4 linked regions of the Homo sapiens genome follow. The protein of the gene in region 2 interacts with the protein of the main gene of each other region in a pairwise test. Each region holds a gene or a part of one and is shown on either strand. Other genes may lie near its edges. The genes, in order: MAGEA8, MTUS2, EHHADH and KIFC3.

Region 1 (7,680 bases), on a different chromosome or scaffold from region 2:
GTGTGAGAGGCCTCAGCTGGGTACTACACCCTGGATGCCCTAACAAAGGTCTACTTACAGGTCTTCTTCAGTGCTTCTCTGGGGCCTCCTGACCTCCTGGCTGGCCTGTTCTCTGCGAACCTGAAGGAGAAATTGAGAGGGCATCTCAGGGTGCAGCCTCCTGGCAAAGGCCAAGGCTCCAGGACTGACAAAAGGGCTGGTAGGGCCAGGAACTGTGGGGTTCCTGCTGTTCTGATGCCAGAGGGGCCTCTGGTATACATACAGGGGAAACACCACCTCAGCTTGACTGCTACTACTGCCTGGGCCTCTTATGCTCTGTGATTGAAGATACTGCCTCAGACCAAGACCTCACAGCCTGGTTCCTGGAGCTCCTAGAAGATAAATCGAGGGGAACTCAGGCTGCAGACTGCAAGCACAGCCCCAGCACCCCAGTGCTGTCAGGAGGGTGAGCCTGACTCTGTGAGCTCCCCACTATTTTGTGTGGATGGTCCTTTCTGTGCTCATTCAGGGCCCTCATCTTTCTCCTGGCAGGGCCTGGATCTGGCCCTTTTGCTGGCCTGAGAAACTTTCAGATCAAGAGTTTATATCCCTGATATGGAAGACAAGGATATGAAGGGACCCACATCTGGCCCCACATGCCCAAGGCCTCCTGGGAAAAAAGCAATAGCTACACAAAATGCAATGGGGCCCACGTGTCCTGTCCTAGGGTGAGAAAAAAGCAATAGCTACACAAAATACATTGGGGCCCATGTGTCCTGGGCTGACCTGAGGCCACTTCCTTAATCCAAGGACCTATCTCCAGGAGACACTGGAAGAGCAAATGAGGGGATTCCATCCACCCACCTTTCCCTGCACTTCCCATGGCTGACAGAAGGTGCAGGGTGGGGTTCGGTCCTGTGTGTTTGGTGAGTGGTGTCCTCTGAGTCCCTGACTCCTGGCAGGGCCTTGGACCCCCGCTCTGCTGACCTGAATGCAGTGCCCTCAGACCAAGGCCTTCTTCTCCCTGAGACCAATGAGTCTGGTATAACACAGGGGCCTCAGCTGATAGTCCTGCTCATGCTCTCAGGGGTGACAAAAGAGGCCGGGCAGATTTCTGTTGGGCCCCCATCTGTTTTTTGCCTGCTAGGAGAACCATCGAGGGTACCCTCAATCTTCCCTCAGTGTTGTCACCTAGACTCTTGGTAGATTCTTGGACCACTGAGTCTGTTGCCCACATGGGGGTCCCTGTTTTGTCCTGAGTTGCCCTCTGAGAACAAGGTCCTCACTTCCCTGAGATCTCAAGAGAGAAATGAGGAGCCACCACATCTGATGACCACTGGGTGGGGTGTCCAGGGGTGACACTAGGATCTGTCCCTACTTGTTCTTGAGTGGTGGGTTCTAAGGTCTTCAGGGGGTTATTCATCTTTCCCCTGATGGAGCCCGCCCTTCCTCAACCCACAACACCCTGATATGAGCAGACATCTCCCCTTACCACCAAGACCTTATCTTCCTGCGTTTCCCCAACTTCCTGCCCACAGTACAGATGAGATCTCCACTTAGGGCCACCCTTGATCGGGTTCCCCCAGAGATAATAACCAAAGTTAGCCAGACTTTGTGGGGTCCCTTCTTTCCAGGCCAGGAGTACCCCCATTCATCACAAAGTGAGCACATCTTGGGTCCTGCAGATCCTGTGACCCCGTCCCTCTGTTGAACAGGTGTGGCTCCCTCTGCTGAGCTGAGGACGCCCTTCAGACCCAGGTTGCTACCTCCCTGAGACCCAGGAGGCAGAAGTAAGGAGGCACTACATGGACAACCCTGCATGGGATTCCCACGGCTGACAGAAGTAGTAGGTTTCATGGGGTCTTTCTCTGTCTGGGTGTCATCCAGGTATTCATATTTACTCCACGACAAGGCATGGCCCTTTCCTTCCTGCTGAACCGTGGATGTGTCTTGCATGCCAAGGCCACCATCTCCTTGAGGCCCCCTACCAGAAAGTGGGGGGGCCACATCCCTTCCCCACTGTCCTGCCTTGGGTGCCCAGACCTGAGAGTGGGAGCAGGTTTCCTAGGCCATGATGGGAGGTCTGCTGAGTCCTCCTTAAGGGCTCTGGGGCACCTCTCTCCAGTGATCTGAGACTCCACTCCTCAGACCACAGCTGTCTCCTTTCTGACACCCTGAAAATGCAGCAAGGATGCGCCACATGCAGCCACAGATCCTGGGACTTCCCAAGGCTGAGATCTCCACTGATCTGGAGTCCAAGGACCCCTGAGTCCTCCCTCTTCTTCTTCTCCTTGACTCCTGGCAGGGCTGTTCACCACCCCCCTGCTGACTTGAGTTTCAGTCCCTCGGATTCCTGAGGCCAAATGTGGAGGCCCCTCAGTCTCAGACAGGTAGGGTGGGCCCCCTGTCCTGGGGTCCTGGGTCCCCTCGGGCCTCCTCATCTCCCAGCATAGCCTGGGCCCTCCCTCTGCTCCTCTTGAGTCCGTGCTCATGAAGCCCCTTTGCTGCATCAGCCCCGGATGCGGACGTCAGAATCAGCGAGCCCGGCCGCCATGCCCGGCCGCCATGCCCGGCCGCCATGCCCGGCCGCCATGCCCGGCCGCCATGCCCGGCCGCCATGCCTAGGGCTTCCCAGGGCTGACAGTAGGGGCAGAGATGTGCTCTGTGGAGCCTCAGCCCTCCCTCAGGGTCCTGCCCTTGATGCCTGGCAGAACCTGGGCCCTGCCCTCTGCTAACCAGCCCTGCTCTGGTCACACCAAGCTCTCACTCCAGATTCCCCTGGGGCTTAAGCGCAGGGCTGGCGAGGGGTGGCCCAGCCAGACAAGTCTGCCCCCTGGTGGTCCAGGGCTGGCAGCAGGGGCGGCGCTAGATTATTTTGGGTCCTATATGAGGGGTGGGGGCCTCCTCAGTCCTCCCTCAGGGTCTCACCTTGCCTCCTCACAGACCCTGAGCCCGCTTCCCTCAGCCGATCTCAAGCCGACCCCTCAGAACCAGGCCCTCGCTTCTCTCTGATCCCCGCGGCCACGTCAGTGGCGTCACATCCGTCCACCCAGGGCTCACCTGGGTGGACAACAGGGGCGGAACCGGATTCTAGTGGGGCGGGGGATGAGGGAGGAGCGGTTCAGTCATCCCTCAAGGTTCTCACTTTGAGATCTGGCAGAGCCTGGAGCTCCGTACTCTGCTGATGGTGTCTGCTTCCCTCAGACCAAGGTTCTGATTCCGAGTCCCCTGAGGTGGCAGTGGGGGGAAGGGTGTGGTGGGGGGACAAGGCTGCTGGGGTCTTTCAGGGCTGACATGAGGGTCTGAGCTGAATTATGTGGCCCCTCTATGTGGTGTGGGTGGACCCTCAGTCCTCACTCAGGAGGGTCCTCTTCTTGACTCTTGGCTCTTTTAGGAGATACTCTGTTTCTGTCACCTCTGAGCATTTGCACAGCTGCACCCCTTGCAGAGAATGGCTGCGGGTCCCAGGCCAGATTCTCCCTGTGGGTTTGCAGCACCTAAGATTGTAGTGACCTCTGGGAGAAGAGGCACACCTTCCCACGGGGGCTCTTCCCCAGCTAGAAGAGGATTTTGCAAAACTTTTGTACTAAATGATTTATTTTTACACTGAAGAAACTGAGTAGCTGCAATAAATTTGTGGAAGTCCTGAGTTTTGAAGTTACCTAACAATTCCTATTCCACTTTAGTGATTTTCATAATTTAATTCGCATTCGTATAGTAAGAAACGAATTTTAAATCTATGCCAATTGTATATGTGCATTATATTTATGTTTATATGCATAAACACATATGTATGTATATGTTTATATTATATATGTGTAATTATATGAATGTATGTGTATATATCTTTACATATATTTATACATATATGTATGTCGACTATACGTACTTATTTTATCAAACAATATCTACTCATACAATGTGTGATTCACTCATACTATTCTATTTCTAGTTCATTATATATATTTGATTAAAATAATAGTATTTTGGAAGGTAGTCCTAACCTACTCTTTGTTTCTAGTTGTTATTAGCAGAATTCTGGAGCCATGGTGTCTCAATCAATCCAATTTTCCTGGTGTCCTGATATTACCCCTGGGCTACTGGCTTCGTGTTTTGAGGTGCAGACTCGGATCCTACATTGATGTGGGGTGGTCCTTTAAAACTTTTCCTGCAACTCACCCTGTCGTCTGCAGTGGCTGCAGACCTCCTCAACCTCCCTGCCTCTCCAACTGCCCAGAACACAAGTACCAGTTCAACACAGTTTTTTCCCCAGGGTTTTCTATGTTTTGTTGTTTAGACTTTGTTGCTGATATTGTTGTTTTATTTTTCTTTTTCCCTTCTATATTTTTACACAGTTGATTTTGGGAGTAGAGCACAGCAGCCTGGGCTTGATTGTCACTTTGGCAGCTACAGGTAGGCATTAACTGTTTATTTAATTTAAGTAAGATTTACACCTTTGCTGTATTCTATTCCTCATCAGTGAACATCATATACTACTCCATTTATTTGGGAATTTTTTCTCTGAATCTGTCAGCAAACTTGTACAGTTGCTTCTGTAAATGTCTTGCATATTTTGGTTAGGCTTCTTCTTCTTTATATTTTGGATTTAAATGCTGTTGGGGATGGTATATTTTTCATTTTATGTTCTAAGTTGCTCATCTGTGACAAGTCTCTTGTATTCGCTGCAGTGGTCTTTGTATGCTGTCTTCTGAAGTCTCTTATTCATTTGAATGTTCCATGTGTCTCTTCCTTTGAATTTTCTTGATGGTCATATTGTGAAAAATATGATCTATTTCTTTTCAATCTTCATACCTCTTTTTCATCTTGATATCCATAGCTCTCTTTTTCATTTCAGCATTCACTGCAGCTGTGAACGGTAGCAGTGAAAGCATACATCAATGACTTGCTCCTGACGAGAATGGGAATGCTTCTAACATTTCACATTCAAGTATGTTTCCTGTCAGTTTTAGAAAATTAAAGTGCCTTTTAATCTTCATTTGCTAAAAATGTTAATTTGAAAATATGATAAAATTCATTTCAGAGGCTTTTTCTGTATTTTTATTCCTTGCATACGAGCTGCTTGTTCATTAGTCCACTGTTGTGTTGAATATACAATTATCTATTTAGGACATTTGCTGCAATATGAGTGAACACTTGGCTCATATGTTCTTTTTATAAAGGCTGGATGTCTTTATCTTTTTTTCCCCCCCAATGCAGGAGAAGGAGCCTTGGAGAATTCGTTGAATAATTGCCCGTATTTTGGGATTATTTGGAAGAGTTAATATGGTGATTCGTTTTCCCTGACCACTTGGGGGAACTGACCCACAAAACTGCCTGCCTTAGAACGGTAGAGGGTGGATTGAGCTTTAAATACATTTTCAGTTTGTGGACGTACCATTGGTTTTATCCATTCACCAATTGGAAAAAGTATTGATTGTCAATTTCAAATAAGCTGCTATATATGTTTTTGTGTACGTGATTTTGTGTGTATGAACCTGTTTCCAATTTTCCTTGATAAAACCTAGGAGTACAATTGCTGTGTGTAATGGTAAGTCTAAGTTTTGCTATATTAGAAATAGCCAAAGCCCCTTCTAGAGTGAATGTGTTCTTTTTCTTCTCTACCAGCAATGAAAGAGAATGCCACATCTTTTGTACAATTTGGTATTTTCAGGTTGTTGCATTGTATCAATTGTAACAGGTGGGTAGAAGAATGTTACTGCTGTTTACATTTGTATTTTTATTGAATAATTATGGTAATCATCTTTTCATATGCTTTTTTGTGATCTGTGTATCTTCATTGGTGAAGTCTTGAAATCATTTACTATTTTATTGGACTCTTCATTTTTATGTGGTTGCATGTTATAAGGTGTTTATTCATTCAGTATATGAATCCTTTATCCGACACGGGGTTTACAAGTATTTTCTCCCCATTTTTGGCTTTTTTCCCCATTCCTTTAAGTGTTTTTTTTTTTTTAGTAAACATTTTAGAGTAATTTTAAATTTACAGAAAAGTTGCGAAGACAGTTAAGAGGGTTTTCCTATACATCATGTCCAGTTTCTCCTATTATTAACATCATGCAATAATATGATACATTCTTCATAATTCATAAATCAATATTCACCTGCACATTCCTGTCATTGTTTGAGGATCCCATCTAGGATACCATGCTACTTTAGTCTAAGCTGTGATAGTTTCTCAGACTATTCTTGTTTTTGATGACTTTAACAGTTTTGGGGAGTATCGATCAGGCTATTTGTGGAATTACCCTCATTTGGTATTTGTCTGAGTTTTTTCATATATAGACTTGAGTAATGGCTTTGGGGTAGGAGACCAGAGAGGCGAAATGCCATTCTCATTACACGATATTTTAGCAACATGACTCATCGCTGTTGATGTTGACTGATGAACTGGCTGAGGTAGTGTTGTCAGGATTTCCCTCTGCAAGGTTATTACATTCCCCCCTTTCTGTATTGTGCTTTATAAAAGAAAGTCACTAAGGGCAGCCATTGGGTAGTAGGGAAGTATGGTCCACCTTCTTGGGAAGGGGTAGTATTGACATGAATGATTTGGGATTCTTCTCAATGGGAGATTTGTTTATTCTCCCCCATTATTTGTATTTATTTAACCTTCAATTTGTCTCGGCTGAACTCATGGTAATTTATTATATGTTTGGGGTTATAATTCAACACCACTTTTATTTTGCTGCTCAGATTGTTCCATCTTTGTCCATTGGAAGCTCTTTCAGTTGGCTCTGATGTCCCCTTCACGTAACTGAGCCATTACATTTGTTTGTAGCTCTGTCTTACTTTATGGTATGACAAGATGATGCAGGCTCATTTTTATATTTCCTGTTCCAGTCATAGAAGAGTCAATTTTCCATGGTTTCTGCTTCCTTTTATGGGAGAAGAGTATTGGAATGTGAGAGGTGGGTGCTTGGCATGCTCATTGTTCCTGAGGATTTGTTATTCCTAGCCACCTCAATTCTCAGAGTAAAGATATATATTTTGGTATATTAACCTGTGTATATACACATATCTATAATCAGAATTCTTAAACCCAGTCCCTGTGAGAAATAGCTTTAGAAGCCAGACAATACTGCTTCAGTACAGTTTCTTTTAACTTCGGTCCCAGAGACTAACTTCCACAGGTACTTAGGACAGCACCATATCCCCAGATACTCATTAGAGGTTGTTTCATAGATTTGTAACACAGTTATATTGTTTTGTCATATTCTATACTCCACCTTGGCATTCCTCGACCTCCTAATTTTTTCAATTTTGCATACATTGAGGTTTACTCTTTGTGCTTTAAGGTTTTATGCTTTTTGACAAATGCATAATATATTCCATTTTTTGACAGCATGTCATCAACCATGACATGACAAAATCAATCATTACAGTAGCCTAGAGAATAGTTTCACCTGTCTAATAAATTCCTTCTGCTTATCCTAGTCATACCTTTTCCCCACCCCTGATCCCTGGCCACAACAGGTATTTTTACTGTCGTTATAGTCTTGTCTTTCCAGAACGTCAAATAAATTGCATCATATACTATGTAGTCTTTTCGGACTGGCTTCTTTTACTTAGAATTAAGCATTTAAGATTTATTCATGTTTTTGTGTGCCTAGATAAGTAAATATTTTGGTTGATGAATAGTGTTCTGTTGTTGTTGGACCACAGTTTGTTTATTCATCTGTCTCT
Region 2 (7,031 bases):
GCTGGTAGGTCATGTTCACAGTTGTCTCTGGGTGGAGGGGTGCTGGAATATTGAGAACTGAATCTGCTCTTGCTGAGGTGCTTTCAATCTTATCTGCATTCTCTAGAAGGTTCCTGTTTTCAGCAACAGATGTGGTGACCTCTTTGCTTTCCCGTGCTTCTGAGCGGCCACTTTGAGGGTCCAGGGGCTCAGGCACCTCCGTCTTGTTCTCTCCAACAGAAGGATTGAACACCAAAACCATAACACTGTCCTTATTCCCACTGCCCAACCGCCTTTCCTCCTCAATGACATCCAAGGGCTTGCTGTCAGTCAGATTATTAGGAATAAAAGCCACATGACTGTCACCTGGTGAAAAGCTGCTGGATGTCCTTTCACCCAACTTCTCACCTGCACATGGTGAAATTTTGCCAGTGGGCTGATTATCAGCCCCTCCTAAGGAAGCAGAGCCCTGTTTGGGGGTGGTGTGGAGAGAATCCTGCTCCCCTGGGTTGACTCCTCTCTTCTCTTCACAGTTGCCTCTTCCCACCCCAAGGTGGTGGAGGTCACTGTTCAGCAGATGGCCAAGTGCATCGGTGGCTTCCGGGTGTGCTTCCCCACATGGATCCCTTCCCTCCAAGGCTGACAGATTCTCTTCCTTGTGGCATCCCAGATACCCTTCCTGGGCTGCCTTTCCCTCCTGTTCAACTCTCCTGGGAGGAACATATTTCAGATCCAGCTTGGCCTCTCCCTTTCCCTGACCTAATTGTGCTTCCAGTTTACTTGGGATTTCCTTCGATGCCAAAGTCAAATTCAGAGCAGGCTCTGGATGGGCGGAATGTGATGTGTGCTCACTGCACACCTGCAGTACATGTGCCCCCACTGTTTGGGTCTCTGAGGGAGTGCTCTGCTTGCTTTCTGAGGTAGATGGTTTAGGATGACGCACACTCTTTCCCTCTGAGGTACTGTCAGTTGCAGGGAAAGCTGCCGGGACAGCGTGGTCTGGCAATGTCTTCTGTGGCCCCTCCCCACCCCCAGGTATCTGACCCCGTGCTTCCCGGGAGTCGAGGGATAGAGGCTGTGGATGCTGCGGAGTCAGGCTCCCGACTGCAGCTACAGAGCTGCTTGCTCTTTCCAAAGAATGCCTCCTCAGTTCCTCATTGTCAAGGGTCTTTGCCAGTTTATCCTTGGGAACATGCCGGGGAATTTCAGCATCCCTTTTAGCCAAAACGTCTAGACTGGCCTCACTCATCACATTCCTCCAACTCGACAGACTTGGTCCCTGAATACTCCGCGTGGTCTGCAGGCTATCTGTGCCTCTCTCCACTGTGTGCTCTTCATTGAGTTCCCTCTGAATGGTTGAAGAAAGTCTAAAATCTTTCAGGCTGGCAGAGCCAGCCTGAGAGCCTTTCCCAAAGCCCTGAAGTTGGTGAAATTCCTTATGGAAATGGGTACGGTTTTCTGGCTCACTTGAATTTGTATTTCCAATTTCATCTCCCAGGTCACATGTCTTGGACTCGTCATGAGAGGAGCTGACCTCCAACATGATTTGATTGGCATTCGTATCTCCCAGACTTAAGATGCTTTCATTATTATTTCTTGCTGCATTTCTGTTGTCCCGCAACTGAGTGTAACATGATTTCTTAGGAGCCACTGGGACGCTCATTGTCAACCCTTTGGTGGGGCTGCTTGCCATGCAGTCCTACTTAATGGAAATGGGCTGCCTTCAAGCTGCAATCAGATTAAGAGGAAATTCTCAAGCTGCTTGTTCTCCCCTGACAATGTCACCTTGCGACACTGCTTTAATCATTCTCAGAACAGCTTGAAAACCAAGCATTGTCTTGATATACAGCAGGAAGACTTATCTGTTAGGTTCCTGCTGAATGAGAGCCAATCAGTCCATGAGACCTAGAGAGAAATAAAAATATATTCACATTAGATTGACAAATAGAACTTCTCAGGAGAAAAAAGTGGTAAACACAGATTTATTTGTCATTTCTATATTATTATTTCATTCAATCAATAGTTTTCTCAAAAAACCTTTCTGATCAGGGCTCCTCCTGGCCAAATACAAAAATTAAACATCAAAATGTTTAATGTTAGAAATGGATTATAAATGCATGTGAGATCTTAAATCTAAATTTTAAACATCCACAAGTCTATACTGATACTGATTTAAAAGGATGGAGGAGAAGTAAGGGCTCTTCTTTACAGAAGAATATCAACGAATGTAGAAAAAAATTATAGAATTTGAAAAATCACTATTTTGCAATCGCTACATTCATAATTATCTTACACAAGGGATGCCAAAGGTACAAACATTGGGTAAAAGATTGTTGGGGAACAAGATATTCATAGATGCTTAAAGTATCTTCCCCCAGGCTACTTCATTTCTTACAAAACGAAAATTTTATCTTTACAATGGAGAGATCTGGTAGACACCACATTAACCACGTGATCAAATTTAACATCACTAGTAATGAAACTGACATTACGGACTCCTGATATTAGTTAGTTCTCAGGGCCACACATCACCTATGCAGTAGTTAATGTTCAACCAGAATTTAACCATGAGACAATAATCTGGCAAATTTAAATTGAGGTATGTATTGCAAAATAACTGGCCTAACTGGTCCCAAAAAATGTCAGCGGAGCCTGGATTTTCAAAACATGTTAGCAAAGGATATTATTAGGACAATTAGAGATTTAAATATGGACTGTATATAAGGTACAGGTATTTTATAATTAATTTTCTTGGGTGTGTAATCGTGCTATAATTATGCCAGAGATTAATTTGGTTCTTGAAATATACATGCTTTAGAATTCAGAGGTAGTATGTCATGATTTTTCTAACTTATTCTCAAATGATTCGACCAAGAAAAACGTGTATGTATGTGTGTGTGCATATGAGAAGGAGAAAGAGTAAAAGAGAGAAACTGGCAAAAGTCAACCATTTGAAAATCTAGGTAATAATTCTATTACATCTGCAACTTTTCTATAGGTTTGAAATTTTCCAAAATAAAAACTTGGGGGAAATGCTTTACTCTGGCCTTCGAGGCCTGCATGATCAGGCCCTGAACACCTTTCTGGCCTCAACCCCACCTCACCCTCTGCTCTGCAGGCTGCAGCCACATTGGCCTCATTCCTCACAGTACCATGTTCATTACTCTCTGCCTCAGGGCCTTTGCGCATACTCTTCCATCTGCATGGAATGTGGAATCCTCCCCCAACCTCATCTTACAAGTCCTTTGCATCCTTCAATATGCAACATAACTACCACTTCCTCCAGGAAGCGTTCCTCACTAGGTCATCCTATAATGATGGATTTGTAGTATCCTGTATTTTCACTTTGAAGAATTAAAAAAAGACTTTCAGATTTGCTAGACACTGAAAATAAATATTGTCTAATACCTGGCATACATATTAGGCACGTATTATGTATTTGCAGCACAAATGAATGAATAAATGTCCAAATGAATGATGAGGAAGATCAGCGTTATTTCTGCCCCCAAAGAGTTTAAAATCTACACAGGATATGCTTTTCTGTTAAAGTAGACTCACAGATCACCACTAAACCATTCTATTCAAGGTTGACATTGTTTCATCCACTATTATGAGTGCATTTTATTAGGCACTGGGGATAGGGGATTTTAACAGCAACAAGGTTCTGCCCCGTCACCAATTCCCCCAATGGAGACTTGAAGCCTTCCACACTTTCCTCCTCATTCATCAAGAATGTGCAAGCACACGTGCACACCACATGTGAGGCTACTGTTATGTTTCTCCTGAAACAGGTTACATGGCAACGTGGCCACCCACTTGTTTTCCCTTTATCCCTGTTAATATGTTGTTTCATATATTAAAAAGAATATGAGGGCTGGACACAGTAGCTCACACCTGTAATCCCAACGCTTTGGGAGCCTGAGGTGGGAGGATCACTTGAGGTCAGCCTTGGCAACACAGCAAAACCCTATCTCTATTTAATAAAATGTATATGTTACAAAGCAAAATAATATAACACGTGACAGCCCATCACCCAACCCAAGGACACCTTGCAGCCATCCTCATGCTCCTCCTCACTGAAGCCCTCTGTGTTTCCAACTTAGAGATCTCTTTTCTTTTGCGTCTATACATAAGCATGTAAACTTTTTTACATACATAAGATCATTTCCTATAAGCTGGTTTTTGTTCCATTTTTTAAAATTTGCCTCTTCTAGCCCATACCCCAAGACACATTAACATCTAGATCTTTCCATTTCTTTCCCCATGTTTGCATGATCATGGGAAAATACAGAGTCATACATGTGCATGTGCGCTTGCATTTCCGTACCACACTGCTCTTCTGTTCTTTCCACGACTCCCTCACTGTCCTCATCCTCCCCGCTCTCATGCTTTTTCTCCTTCTCCATCTTCTACCAGCCTTATCTCCACTAAGCCAGTAGCACCCCCTGGTGCAGCCTGACCCCAATATAGCCCTCAACCAAGTTGCTCATACCCTGATCACAGTCTTCATTTCCTGACACAGAGGGGATTCTCAACAAACCCTTGTGTCTTTGTTTATTCAATTTTAAAAGCGTTTCCCTTGAAGATACACATGTTCTCTAAGCACAAATACAAAAAGCATGTAGGCAAATCAATAAGATCACAGTTTAAAAGAATGCTGTGCTCTCTGGGATGAGAAACGGGTATCTTGCAAAGTCAAGAAGGGCAAGAAAGTTCATAAATATAGGCCATCCACAGAAGGGAACTGCCTCTAATTTTCTGTGGGCAGAAGTATAAATATGCAGCCAAGAGCCCTCTTCGGTTTGAATTGTTGAAGCTGGGAGAAAGAAAGAAACTTTGCTCAGCAGAGACAAACAAAAACAAAGTACCAAAGTCCACAACATGTAACATGATTGCAAGAAAGTGACAAAGAAATATAAAACCAATGTCATGCTAGAAAGAGTTGTATTTTAATTTTTAAGGAACTACATCATAAATGTTCTTTATCTTTGTCAGTAAACAACTGGTACTCACTGGTAAGGGGACAGAAAGAAAGGTGGAACCTCCTAGGGGCCCAGTATTTTCTCAGCCATTATACAAATTTGTTTAAAAAATTGAGACAGTATCTCATTCTGTTGCCGAGGCTGGAGTGCAGTAGCACGTTCATAGCTCACCACAACCATGAGCTCCTGGGCTCAAGAGATCCTCCTGGGTCAGCCTCCCAAGCAGCTGGCACTCCAGGTGCACACCACCACATCTGGCTAATTTTTTAATTTTTTGTAGAGATAGGGTCTCGATACATTGACCAGACTAGTCTCAAACTCCTGGCCTCAAGTGATCCTCCTATCTTGGCCTCCCAAAGTGCCAGTATTACAGGCATGAGTCACAGCACCTGGCCTAAAATTTAATTTTAAATTAAAATTACACAATTACAAGTCTTTAATATTCAATTTTAATTTAAGTTAGGACACTTAATAATATTTATAGCAGGCCTCCAGAGACAGGTCTTCACATCCCCTTGCTTTTTTTTTTTTCCCACGTCCTGGTAAGGAAATGAAAGCACAGAGAAGGTAACATTCCCAAGGTCACACAGCTCATGAGTGGCAGAGCTGGGACACATTTAGAAAGCAGAAGCTGTAAAGAAGAAAAGCTGCCCATGAATGGAATCATACACCACACAGGAAGAACAAAAGGAAAACAAACTATTGTAAGAACAAGAATAGAAAAACAAAACCAGAAACCAACACGTGGAAGTTCACATAAGACAGGAAAAGCAAATTTAAAAACTTTCTTCAATTTTATCAGGCAAAATTATATACAGGAAGTCATGTTTCCTGTCAGCTTCCCTCCTCCTTATGTGGCCTCACGCGTCTCCCTCACTCCAGCTCCCTCATCCTGCCATAAGACAGCGGCAAAGTAAACACAAACACGAATTTCTGTCCGGATCTAAATTTCAATCCAAGGCCTTCTACTAAGATAAACGTTTTCACAGAATATATAACATGATCACAGAAGTTCAAACTTGTACATAATACAAGACTGTGTGTGATTAAATAAAATATGCAAATAGGTCAACCAATGGTACAAACCCCTAGTTGAGGTGCATTTTCCCAGAGTGAGACATGTAACTTTCATATGCCTCAGATCTATTATTACAAAAAGTTAACAATAATGGCCTTAGAAGTAATTGATATTTTATCTTGAAAAAAATCAATTAGTTCAGTACTAGTTTGAAAGGAATGTAAAGATCTAGGCTTATAACCTACCTGATGCTTAAGAGTCTTCTAAGTGGCTTCCCCTGGTTCTAGGGCCAGAAAACTCACCACACATCTGGGCAGGGTCTCTGTTGGCAAGCTCTGCCTCTCTACAGCAGAATGATGCAATTCTTCCACCAGATGACCTTTCAGGTATTTACAAAGAGCTATATGCTCCCTTCCTCCCAAAACCTATTCTACTCCTTGTCAAAGAACTCAGATTCTCCCAACTGTGGGATTAGCTTTTGAAAACTCCCACCATCCAAACAGCTTTCCTCTAAGTACACCGTGTAGCACCAGGGAACCTGAAGTCCCTCCTAAACAAGGTGACCAGAGCTATGCACAATACTTCAATTCTAACTGCACCATCTAGAGTCATAAGAAAGCAAGCCTTCCATTCTCTTCTACTTCTAACCACGCATTCTAAGAATGACCTCCTCATGGACATATAAATCACCCTCTAGTTCCACATCATTAATTAAAACACCAAAGTACCATATAAGTTGTCCTAAACTCCACTGACCCAATCCGAGACATTTGTAACTGGTTTTAGCACCCATGGGTGGGATCATAAAAATATACTTCTCAAACATCACCTTGCTGGTCTCAATGCATCGTTCTATCCTTTTAAAACTTGTGGAGCCCATCCTTAATTTTTCATCGAAAATATCTGCAATCCATTCTTGTTCCCATACTATCGTGGAAAAGCTAAGAGTTCCTTCTACATTATCATTCATTGATAATCCACTGATAAATCACTCACTGGTGTCATTCATCGACACCAATGTTAGCAGAACACAGCAGGGGACAAAACAGCAG
Region 3 (4,957 bases), on a different chromosome or scaffold from region 2:
GTGAGGTAAGGGTCCAACTTCATTCTTTTGCATGTGGATATCCAGTTGTCCCAGCATCATTTGTTGAAAAGACTATACTTTCTCTGTTGAATGTTCTTGGCACTCTTGTTAAAAATCAATTGGCCATAATTGTGTGGGTTTGCTTTTGGCTATCAGTTCTATTCTGCTAATCTATATGTCTATCCTTTTGCAATGACCACTATCTTACACTGTCTTAAATACTATAGGCTTCTTTTTTTTTTTTTTTTTTTTTTTTTTTTGAGACAGGGTCTCACTCTGTCACATAGGCTGGAGTGCAGTAGTGTGATCATAGCTCACTGCAATCCTCAAACTCCTGGGCTCAAGATATCCTCCTGCTTCAGCTTCCCAAATAGCTGTGACTATAGGCATGCACCATCATGCCTGGCTAATTTTTGTTGTTGTTGTTGTTGTTGTTGTTGTTGTTGTTGTTACAGAGTTTCAATCTTGTTGCCCAGGCTGGAGTGCAATGGTGCGATCTTGGCTCACTGCAACCTCTGCCACCTGGGTTCAAGTGATTCTCCTGCCTCAGCCTCCCAAGTAGTGGGGATTACAGGCATGCACCACCACACCCAGCTGATTTTGTATTTTTAGTAGAGACGGGTTTTCTCCATGTTGGTCAGGCTGGTCTTGAAATCCTGACCTCAGGTGATCTGCCCACCTCGGCCTCCCAGAGTGCTGGGATTACAAGTGTGAGCCATTGCACCTGGCCCCCTGGCTAATTTTTAATTTTTTATAGAGTTGGAGTCTCACTGTGTTGCCTGGGCTGGTCTCAAACTCCTGGTTCCAAGTGATCCTCTCACCTTGGCCTCCCAAAGTGCTGGGATTACAGGCACGAGCCACCTCACCCAACCTTGAATAGTTTTGTCATACAATTTGAAATTGGGAAGAGTGAATCCTCCAACTTTGTTCTTTTTCAGTATTGTTTTGGCTCTTCTGGATTTCTTGCATTTCTATGTGAATTTTAGGATCAGCTTATTGATTCTGCAAAAAACCAGCTGGGATTTTTATAGGAATTGTGTTGGTTCTTCACATCAATTTGGGTAGTATTACCACCTTAACAATATTAAGTTGTCTGATACAAAAACATTTAATGTTTTTCCATTTATTTGGTCTTACTTAATTTCTATTAACAATGTTTTGTACTTTTTAGTGTACAAATCCTCCTATTCTTTGTTAAATTTCTTCCTGTGTATTATTCTTTTTGATGCTATTGTAAGTAGAATTGTTTCTTTTAATTTTATATTCAGATTGTTTATTTCTAATATATAGAAATATACTTGATTTTTGTATATCAATTGTGTACCTACAATCTCGTTGGACTCATTTATTAGTTTGTATAGCTTCTATTTGTGTGTGTGAATCTGACTAATTTTTATATCCTCTGAAACACTTAAGAGAGTGCAGAGTCTTAACTAGTACTCAATCCATTTGTGTTTCTTGACTCAATCTCTTTAAATGCCACATTGTCACATAAGCCTTCCATCCAGTGAATAATTTATCAGTTCCCAATACCACTGAATCATTCTTTTTCTCCTTTGATTTTTATCTGCAGGCTTGGGAACAATGGGCCGAGGCATTGTCATTTCTTTTGCAAGGGCCAGGATTCCTGTGATTGCTGTAGACTCGGACAAAAACCAGCTAGCAACTGCAAACAAGATGATAACCTCTGTCTTGGAAAAAGAAGCCTCCAAAATGCAACAGAGCGGCCACCCTTGGTCAGGACCAAAACCCAGGTTAACTTCATCTGTGAAGGAGCTTGGTGGTGTAGATTTAGTCATTGAAGCAGTATTTGAGGAAATGAGCCTGAAGAAGCAGGTCTTTGCTGAACTCTCAGCTGTGTGCAAACCAGAAGCATTTTTGTGCACTAATACTTCAGCCCTGGATGTTGATGAGATTGCTTCTTCCACTGATCGTCCTCACTTGGTCATTGGCACCCACTTCTTTTCGCCAGCTCATGTCATGAAGTTGTTAGAGGTTATTCCCAGCCAATACTCTTCCCCCACTACCATTGCCACTGTTATGAACTTATCAAAAAAGATTAAAAAGATTGGAGTCGTTGTAGGCAACTGTTTTGGATTTGTGGGGAATCGAATGTTGAATCCTTACTACAATCAGGCATATTTCTTGTTAGAAGAAGGCAGCAAACCAGAGGAGGTAGATCAGGTGCTGGAAGAGTTTGGTTTTAAAATGGGACCTTTTAGAGTGTCTGATCTTGCTGGGTTGGATGTGGGCTGGAAATCTAGAAAGGGGCAAGGTCTTACTGGACCTACATTGCTTCCAGGAACTCCTGCCCGAAAAAGGGGTAATAGGAGGTACTGCCCAATTCCTGATGTGCTCTGTGAATTAGGACGATTTGGCCAGAAGACAGGTAAGGGTTGGTATCAATATGACAAGCCATTGGGTAGGATTCACAAACCTGATCCCTGGCTTTCCAAATTCCTATCACGGTATAGAAAAACCCATCACATTGAACCACGTACCATTAGCCAGGATGAGATCCTTGAACGCTGCTTATATTCACTTATCAATGAAGCATTCCGTATCTTGGGAGAAGGGATAGCTGCTAGCCCAGAGCACATTGATGTTGTCTATTTACATGGATATGGATGGCCAAGGCACAAGGGCGGGCCCATGTTCTATGCTTCCACAGTTGGGTTGCCCACAGTTCTAGAGAAATTGCAGAAATATTACAGGCAGAACCCTGATATTCCCCAACTGGAGCCAAGTGACTATCTAAAAAAACTGGCTTCTCAGGGAAACCCTCCCCTGAAAGAATGGCAAAGCTTGGCAGGCTCCCCTAGCAGTAAATTGTGATTCAGTCTTCCAGATTATGCCTCACATGCTAGCATCAGGTAATGCTGACTGAATTTCAGTGAAATTAAATCAAAAATCCAAAGTAAGATTGTTCTGAAATACAAAGCAAAATAAATAATCATTAGAATCTTCTGTGTAACGACTCTAATGGTCAAATCTTTAGGAATGTGCTTCCTATGCCTCTGAATCTGTCCTTATCAGATAAATTCAATGCATGAACTTGTGTGAATATAATACCATAATAGCTAATGAAAGAGGCTCAGGCATAAGTTGAGATTCTCAAATGCTTTTATCATTGGATAAATGTGTCATCAATTAATAAATGATAAATGCAGCTAAGTCATACATTCATTTTGACTCCTTTCAATGTCACACACATAGTATTGATCAGAAATCTTATGAATCATACATACACTCAACAAACATTAAAGTTGTAGGAAAAAGACAGTTGGAAATTGGTAAGGGAACTGAGTACTTCAAACCAGCACAGGGAACTTAGGTTAGTGTGGCAAGCCTTTCCTCTTCTGGTCTTTCCTCTTCTGTTTATGGAGAAATAATAGAAAGTAGTAAGTCGTTAACTTAGTGTAAGAAGGGTCTTAGAGAACATCTAACCTTCTAGGATTTCCCAATTCTGTGATAGAGTAATGACACCAGTTTTCCTGTCATGACAAGCCTCTGTGATGTTACATATGGAAATGGTTGAATCTTGAAAAATCTAAAATTGTTGCAAAACATATTTTGTATGATTTTGTTGTAAGAGTTCTTCTCTTTTTACTTTTTGCCTTGTGTAGTTAAAAATTAAGGGGCTGGTCAATACAAAAACTTGTACACAAATATTTATAGCAGAATTATTCATAATGGCCAAAAGCTGAATACAACCCAAATGTCTATGAACTAATGAATAGATAAACCAAATCTGGTATATCCATACAATGGACTATATTATTCAGCCATAAAAAGAAATAAAGGGCCAGGCACAGTGGCTCACACCTGTAATCCCAGCACTTTGGGAGGCTGAGGCAGGAGGATTGTTTGAGGCCAGAAATTTGAGACCAGCCTGGGCAACATAGCAAAACCCTGTCTCTACAAAAAATACTTTCCGTACATTAGTGGTTGCCTAAGGCTAGAATTGGGGGTGATGAATGGGGAGTACAGGATTCATCTAATGGGTACAGGATTTCTTTATGGTTCATGAAAATGGTCTAAACTTATTGTGGTAATGGTCACATAACAATATATTAAAAACCATTGAGTTGTATATTTTAAGTGGGTGAATTATATGGTATGTGAATTATATCTCAATAAAGTTGTTAGTAAATAAATGGGGCTGAAGATGTTATCCTTCATTGTGGTGTAAATGAACTTTCACAATATTTTCACCTGTGAACCCAAATAAAATGATTAAAGTTCTGATGGAAAAATCTTGAATGGAGTATAAGTTTTCCGTTGTTAAAAAGCAAACAAAAAACCAACAAAAAATCCAAGTGTGCCTTGAATTGTACAGAGCACAATTATTATGTTTGAAATGTGTACTACTTAATTTTATATAATTTGGTTTGTGAAATTAAAGACATCAATAAAAATGATTCCTGAAAGTAGTAATTTTGTCTCCAAAGTGACTTGCTTTCAAATCAGTGTTAAAAAAAACCCACTAACTTTTTCTTCAAACCTGGAATTAATTTTGAGTTCTTACAACTTATTTTCACCCTACAGTGGCCTCTAGATTAAGGGGGTTTTTTTTGTTTTTTTGTTTTTGTTTTTGTTTTTTTCTGACTGGAGTCTTGCTCTGTCGCCCAGGCTGGAGTGCAGTGGCGCTATCTCAGCACGCTGAAAGCTCTGCCTCCCAGGTTCACACCATTCTCCTGCCTCAGCCTCCTGAGTAGCTGGGACTACAGGTGCCCGCCACCACGCCTGCCTAATTTTTTGTATGTTTCAGTAGAGACAGGGTTTCACCATGTTAGCCAGGATGATCTCAATCTCCTGACGTCATGATCCACCTGCCTCGGCCTCCCAAAGTGCTGGGATTACAGGCGTGAGCCACCACGCTTGGCCTAGATTGAGATTTTGAAACTAGAGGGTCTATGAATAGGTTTTATGAGTCAATAACCCCTGAAATGTTATG
Region 4 (7,031 bases), on a different chromosome or scaffold from region 2:
AGCACAGATATTTGTTTAAGGAGCTCACTGCAATCAGAAACAATACAGAGGATCTGTTATAAATAATTTATGGTAAGCCCTGAAGTAGACTATTACGCAGCCGTGTAAAAGAAAGAGGTAGGGCCGGGCGTAATGGCTCACATCTGTAATCCCAGCACTTTGGGAAGCCAAGGCAGAGCCCACAAGTTCGGGACCAGCCTGGGCAACATGATGAAACCTCCGTCTCTACAAAAATTACAAAAATTAGCCAGGTGTGGTGGCACATGCCAGTAGTCCCAGCTACTCAGGAGGCTGAGGTGAGATGACTTGGCTGGAGGTTGCAGTGAGATTCTACCACTGCATTCCAGCCTGGGCAACAGAGCCAGACCTTGCTCAAAAAAAAAAAAAAAAAAAAAAAAAAAGGGTAGTTCTCTATGTGTTGATGAGCATGAAGAGATTACCAGGACTTACTTGAGGGAAAGAGCTAGTGACAGAATAACATGTAAAATAAATAATAAAAATCATATAAATATGCACTGGGAACTGTGGCTCATGCCTGTAATCCCAGCACTTTGGGAGGTTGAGGCGGGTAGATCACTTGAGGTAAGGAGTTCAAGACCAGCCTGGCCAACATGGTGAAACCCCATCTCTACTAAAAATACAAAAATTAGCCAGGTGTGGTGGCACATGCCTGTAGTCCAGCTATTCGGGAGGCTGAGGCATGAGAATCGCTTGAACCTGGGAGGTGAAGGTTGCAGTGGGCTGCAATCATGCCACTGCACTCCAACCTGGGCAACAGAGTGAGACTCTGTCTCAAAAAAAAAAAAATCATATAAATATGGCTGGGTGCACTGGCTCACACCTGTAATCCCAGCACTTTGGGAGGCTGGGGCGGGCAGATCACTCGAGGTTAGGAGTTCAAGACCAGCCTGGCCAACATGATGAAACCCTGTCTCTACTAAAAATACAAACATTAGCTGGGCACGGTGGCACACGCCTGTAATCCCAGCTACTTGGGAGGCTGAGACAGGAGAATCACTGGAATCCGGGAGGCGGAGGCTGCAGTGAGCTGAGATCATGCCATTGCACTCCAGCCTGGGCGACAGAGCGAGACTCTGTCTCAAAAAAAAAAAACAAAAAAAGAGTTCAAGACCAGCCTGGCCAACATGGTGAAATGGTGAAACCTTATCTCTACTAAAAATATAAAAATTAGCCAGGTGTGATGATGCACACCTGTAATCCCAGCTACTCAGGAGGCTGAGGTAGGAGAATCACTTGAACCCGGGAGGCGGATATTACAGCCAAGATCACGCCACTGCACTCCAGCCTGGGCAACAGAGTGAACGAGACTCCATCTCAAAAATAAAAATCATATAAATTTAATTAAGTGGTTCTATATAGGAAAGATAAACAAATAAACACCAAATACTTAATAGTGGATTTCTCAAAGATAGAGGACTAAGAGAGGCAGTTTCTGGATAACTGTATCTCTGCCCTGTTACAAGGCTAGTTGTGTTGAATGGTCGAATATGTGACCAGCAGCGAGTAACTTAACCTCTCTGAGCCTCCACATCCTCATCTATAAAGCTCAGATCAAATACTGTATCCTGAGATTGTTATGAGTATGATGAGGACTAACATGAGATCTTTTAATGCCTGGCACAGAGTCCATGTTTGATAAACAGTAGCTCTTATTACTATTATCGTTATGTATTATTTCTATAGCCAAATATACATACATATGTAAAGTTTATCTTTTTTCTTTTCTTTTTTTTTTTTTGAGACAGGGTCTCACTCTGTCACGCAGGCTGGAGTGCAGTGGTGCAATCACTGCAGCCTCAACCTCCTGGGCTCAAGCGATCCTCCCACCCCAGCCTCCTGAGTAGCTGGGACTATAGGAACCACCATGCCCAGCTAATTTTTTATTTTTCTTTTTGTAGAGATAGGGTCTCACTATATTGTCCAGGCTGGTCGTGAACTCCTGGGCTCAAGCGATCCTCCTATCTCAGCCTCCCAAAGTGGTGAGATTACAGGCCTGAGCCACCGCGCCTAGCCTTACTTTGTCATTTTAAAGTCACTTGGTGATAACTGCAAGGGAGAAGACCCCAAGTTTTAGTGAATCCTCCATCTAGCTTTGAATTCTCACTTCAAACAAGGAAATATTCCCAAGGAAATACAAGGAAATACTCACATAACCATGTTTCAGAATAATCAACCACCCCAAACCTGCCTGTTTTCCCAATACCTTCTCCAAGCTCTGCCCATCTCAGCTAAGGCCCCATGCTTCCCATTTTAACACCTCAGCCAGGGCATGGCTGAAAAGCTCCTGTCAGCTCCTATGAGATTTCCCGTCTGACTTAATAAAGCAGGCTCCCAGGCAGAGGGGTCATGAGGGGCCCAACAGAGAGGTGCGAGGTGGGTCCCCGGCTCTCCCCAGGTGCTTCCTACCCCCAGAAGCCTGGCAGGAACCCAGCCACTGGAGCTCAGAGAGCCAAGGCACATGCAGCCTGGAAGGCCCCAGTGCTTACCTGCAGGGTCAGGTAGAGCCCGTGGGGGCTTCCGGGGCCAGCCCAGTCCACGCTAAGGGCTCGGCACTGAGCTAGGGCTGGGCGAGCTGCACTTCGGGCACTGGAGTCCTCGTCACCGCAGACTGGGGTATCTTTTCCACGCCCTGTCCCAGGACAGAGAGATAGGTGAGACACTCCGACCACTGGCCAAAGACTGCTAGCCATGGACCACTGGCCAGGGCCGCAGCTGAGCTCAGCTTTCACACATCCCTGGCTGGTCCAGATGTGGCCAGGAGGGGCTCACACACCCAAAAAACGCCTGCCCTGCAGAGGGGAAGGCCTGGCTCGGGGCAGTGGCTACGCTCCTTCCTTACCAAAAGCCGCCCAAAGATTCTCTTCTGGAAGGGGCCCAATACCCCACCGGAGGCTCCCCTATCCCCACAGTGGCTTTTGGGGCAGGCATCTGCTCAGCAGGGAAGTGGAAGGAAGCCATTGCCAGCCAGCCTGCATGAAGCTTTGAGGACTTGCACAGGGGCTATGGCTTTATTACCCCGGCTGCCTCTAGGTGGCAATTTCTTCCCTGACTTCATTAAGACAAAATCCAAACCAGGTGGCCCAGCCTCCGTTGCCTCCCCAAGCGTATTCAGAACCAGCTAACGTGCATCCCCTTGTGCCTCTGACACACCGCCTCCCTCACCCATGGGAGAGAGGGCGGGCTGTGGCAGCAATGCCCCAGCCACCCACCTCCACCTGCAGGGCTGAACAGGGTGGGATGGGGGCCAGCCTCACGAGTCATGAGGCACACTGCAGAGCCACTACCCTGGGGCGTAACAATATCCCGAGTGCCAGCCACTGGGCCAAGTGCTTTTCAGGCCTTACACACATTCTGTTTTTTTGGGCTTTTTTGTTTTTTTTTTTTTTTTTTTTTTTTTTTGAGACAGGGCCTCTCTCTGTTGCCCAGGCTGGAGTGCAGTGGTGCGATCTTGGCTCACTGCAACCTCCACCTCCCGGGTTCAAGCAATTCTTATACCTCAGCCTCCCGAGTAGCTGGGATTACAGGTGCGCACCACCAGCCCAACTAATTTTTGTATTTTTAGCAGACACAGAGTTTCACCATGTTGGCCAGGCTGGTCTTGAACTCCTAACCTCAAGTGATCTGCCCGCCTTGGCCTCCCAAAGTGCTAGGATTACAGGCGTGAGCCACAGCACCCAGCCTTTACACACCTTCTTGGTCCTCAGTTTGCTTGTCAATAAAATGGGGACAACTTCACAGCCCTGTGATAAGGATCAAATGGGATGAAATACACGTGGTGCCCATGTAGTGCCAGGCACACAGAAAGGGCCCACAGTACAGGCCAATAGGACTACAGTAGCCATCAGCTCCTCAAAACTCCCCAGGGAGGTGGGGGGCATTCTCCCCACCTGACAGGCAAAGAACCGGAAGCCTGGAAGGGTTAACAATGTGCCCAGGGTCACAGGGAGCCAGGATTCAAATCCCATGTGCTAATCAACCCTCTGCCAGCCAATTCTCAGGGTGGCAATATGGGGGTTGGTCGGGGGACTCAGAGGGGCCTGGGGCAGCTGAGCTGGCTGAGGCCCAGTGGCAGGCACGGCGCTTGCATTTCACACACAGGATTTCATCTGACCTTTGTCTTAAATTTTTTAAGTGGATAAAAGTCTGTATGGTCATATAATCTTCATAATACCCAATTTTTTCCTTCAGGTTAGAAAGCTGAGATAACACAATATTTCAAAGACCTATATGCATGCACACACACACACAGACACACACGACTAGAAGGCACTACATAAAATGTTCAGTGACTAACTTGTGATTTTTATTTCCTTTTTGATATTTTTCTATGTGTTTTAAGTTTTCTAAGGGAAAATGCTTTTGTTTTACCGGAAAAGCAATACTCATTCATATTACATTTGTAATACTTAGGACAACCTTATGGGGTAGAGGCCATCCTCTGCCCCTTTCAGACAACTGGGCTACCTGGCCCAAAAGCCCAGGCTTTTCCCCAGGCCCCTGGGTCATCCCCAGCCTGGCTGTGCTGCTTGGGAGCAGCCAGCCCCAGACAACCATAGAAGCAGAGAGACCTCGGAAGGCATCAGTCCAGCTGCCACTGACAGCACAAATGTGGTGGGAGAGAGGGGTGAACAGGAGTTTGCTGTGTGCCCTCTCTGGGCCTCAGTTTCCCCTTCTGTGCACCAAGGGGCTTGGACCTGATGGCCCAGAGGGACTCTGCTAGCTCTCACAGGCTGGCAGTCTAGACCCTGTTCCTGTAGGTCACGAGGGACAGGGAGCAGACCCCTGAAGGCACCTTGCCTGGAGAGCCCTCTCTCCCCCACACTACCAGGGCGACCTGCCCACGCCTCGGGAGAGGGTCATGGACAGCTCCGCGGCCCCGCCAATCCAGTCCCGGCCCTGAATCAGAGAAGCCGCTCACTTCTTGACTTTCGCAGCACCGGGGGACATGACCCAGAAAGGCGAGCTGGCACTGACAGCTCCCCGGGGGGTACAGTGGGGGCCAAGACTCTGGGACCTCTGCCCACCTGCTGTCAGGGTCTCTACAGAAGCACCTGAAATGAGCACATGGACCCCAAGCCCCGCCAGGCCACGTTCCCGAGCAGCCTCGGTCCACTCCCAACGCCGTCCAGGGGCCAGCCCAGGCAGGATCAAGTGTCAGCGGCGCTTGGTGCCCAGGCAGCCACTTCACCTACCTTGTTTACCAGCCTGGGCAGAGACCGGAGCTAGCCCACACGCTCTTGGCCAAGGACGGCAGCCCGCAGAGCTCTGACCAGCTTGGCCAGAGGGAATGCAGCTGATTCCCCCTGCTCTGTGCCCGACCCGTGTTAAAGTTTAACCCGGCTTCCAGGTCTCCTCTTTTCCAGACAGGGGCGCAGGGAAGGAGCGCCCGGCGAGACTGACGCTCCGGCTCCACGCCCGCCTGGCTCTGGGCTGTCGGTTACCCTGTAATTACCTGACAGCTCTGACTGGGCTTAGGAACCGGTGAGAAACCTCAGTCTCATCTCTGGTATCTGGAGGAAGGAAGGGAAATAAAGAGGCATTTTAAAAATGCGGACTCACCAGTTCTCAACCTCCCCGGGCCGGTGTGTGGGAAAGGGCGGGCGGCCGGGCTGGCTGGGGCTGGGGCGGGGCGAGCCATCCCCGGCTCGGGCTCCGGGGCCCGGCCCACTCTCCACAGGCCCCGCAGCGAGGGCGTGGCTCCCAGGTTCCACGTCCTGCGAGAGGGGACCATGGCCTGGGGCTCAGCAGCCTCCTCGGGGCACCAGGCAGCCTGCGGAGAGAACAAGGGGAGATAAGCTTGAAGACCGTGGACCAGCACAACTGCACCTCGGGCAGAGCCAGCCATCTGGAAGGGTCTACGCCCCACCGGTCGCTGGTTACCCAGCGCAGCAGCTCCAACTGCACTGTCCCCCAAAGACCCTAGGGCTCGCAGGATGAAATGGGGCCTGCTGCCTTTTGGGGGTATTTGTTTCCGAATACGGAGGCTCCGAAGTGCGAAAGTTGCATATCAGCTGTGCCTGAGACCCCACACCTGAGCCCTTCCCAGCTGAGCCTGGAGCCTGAGGACAAGCCAGGTCCTAGCCCCACACAGAGGAGGCACCGCGAGTCAGCAGCATCTCCGTAAGTCTAATCCTTTTCCTCCAAGACATCTAATTTTCTAATTGCACTTAACCACATGCTTAACCCTTAGGCTTCAGGCTGCTCTGCCTAAGGCCTGTCAGCAGAGCAGTGAATGCTCTGAATATTAACATTTCACTGAGGAGGGACTCAAAAGGGCCCTGACTGTGGCCAATGACAAGTGAAGTCTATATACAGTAAGTTCTCATTCATGTATTCGACTAGCCTGCGCTCTGTGCCTAGCATGTGGCAGGCACCGTATGGGTGTTGAGATACAAAGATTCATTCAGTCTTCATTTAATAATGCCTACTGGGTGCCAGGCATCTGCCAGGGGTCCTTTTGGATCAGAAGAGATGAGGCCTGAAAACTCCCAGTCAGAAGGGAGATAAACACTTCAAAAAAACCCTCACAGTCTGAGCAGGCTACTGGAGGCGGCAGGTGCGAGCCAGGCACCAGGTGGTGTGGGGAATGGAGGGGGGCAGAGAGCATTGGTCAGGGATAGAAAGCTTCAGTCAGGGATAGGTCCCTCATGAACTGAACAAATGAACAGAGCTCAGGTATTCCCTGCAGAAGTCTTTATTGAGCACCTACTGTGTGCAAAGCAACCTTGAGGACATTTAAGGTGATCATGCTACAGTCCCAGACTCAGACAGTAATGTCATTTACAGAAGAAGCGAAGTCAGCTTGGAGAGGCAACATGGGGTTTTAAGATTGAGGTGGGGGTAACTGAAGGACTTCCTAGTGGAGCTTCCTGGGCTGTCGACTACTCTCCCCATCCGTCACTGCAGTGGCCACTTCCTGCCAGGAAGTGAAGATAGCTATTTGAAGGGTGTCCACCTCCCCTGACCCACTATGGGCCCACACACATTCATGTTTGCAGCCCCACTGCACC

The links.
Region 1: the proteins of MTUS2 (region 2) and MAGEA8 interact in binary tests that used the Homo sapiens proteins (3 or more experiments, as listed by UniProt).
Region 3: the proteins of MTUS2 (region 2) and EHHADH interact in binary tests that used the Homo sapiens proteins (3 or more experiments, as listed by UniProt).
Region 4: the proteins of MTUS2 (region 2) and KIFC3 interact in binary tests that used the Homo sapiens proteins (3 or more experiments, as listed by UniProt).

Annotation. Positions count from the first base shown.
Region 1 is NC_000023.11:149,876,513-149,884,192, reverse strand, and holds the start of MAGEA8 (melanoma-associated antigen 8), read right to left. Parts: upstream 3,011-7,680; 5' UTR 2,908-3,010; intron 1,826-2,907; exon of another isoform or gene 1,695-1,825; intron 1,123-1,694; exon of another isoform or gene 844-1,122; intron 372-843; exon of another isoform or gene 121-371; 5' UTR 59-120; intron 1-58. UniProt on the Homo sapiens protein: Not known, though may play a role in embryonal development and tumor transformation or aspects of tumor progression.
Region 2 is NC_000013.11:29,019,310-29,026,340, reverse strand, and holds part of MTUS2 (microtubule-associated tumor suppressor candidate 2), read right to left. Parts: intron 1,885-7,031; 5' UTR 1,673-1,884; coding exon of another isoform or gene 1,643-1,672; coding exon 1-1,642. UniProt on the Homo sapiens protein: Binds microtubules. Together with MAPRE1 may target the microtubule depolymerase KIF2C to the plus-end of microtubules. May regulate the dynamics of microtubules at their growing distal tip.
Region 3 is NC_000003.12:185,190,104-185,195,060, reverse strand, and holds the end of EHHADH (peroxisomal bifunctional enzyme), read left to right. Parts: intron 1-1,573; coding exon 1,574-2,835; 3' UTR 2,836-4,437; downstream 4,438-4,957. UniProt on the Homo sapiens protein: Peroxisomal trifunctional enzyme possessing 2-enoyl-CoA hydratase, 3-hydroxyacyl-CoA dehydrogenase, and delta 3, delta 2-enoyl-CoA isomerase activities. Catalyzes two of the four reactions of the long chain fatty acids peroxisomal beta-oxidation pathway.
Region 4 is NC_000016.10:57,792,492-57,799,522, forward strand, and holds part of KIFC3 (kinesin-like protein KIFC3), read right to left. Parts: intron 5,792-7,031; coding exon of another isoform or gene 5,753-5,791; coding exon 5,581-5,752; exon of another isoform or gene 5,214-5,580; intron 2,651-5,213; coding exon 2,508-2,650; intron 1-2,507. UniProt on the Homo sapiens protein: Minus-end microtubule-dependent motor protein. Involved in apically targeted transport. Required for zonula adherens maintenance.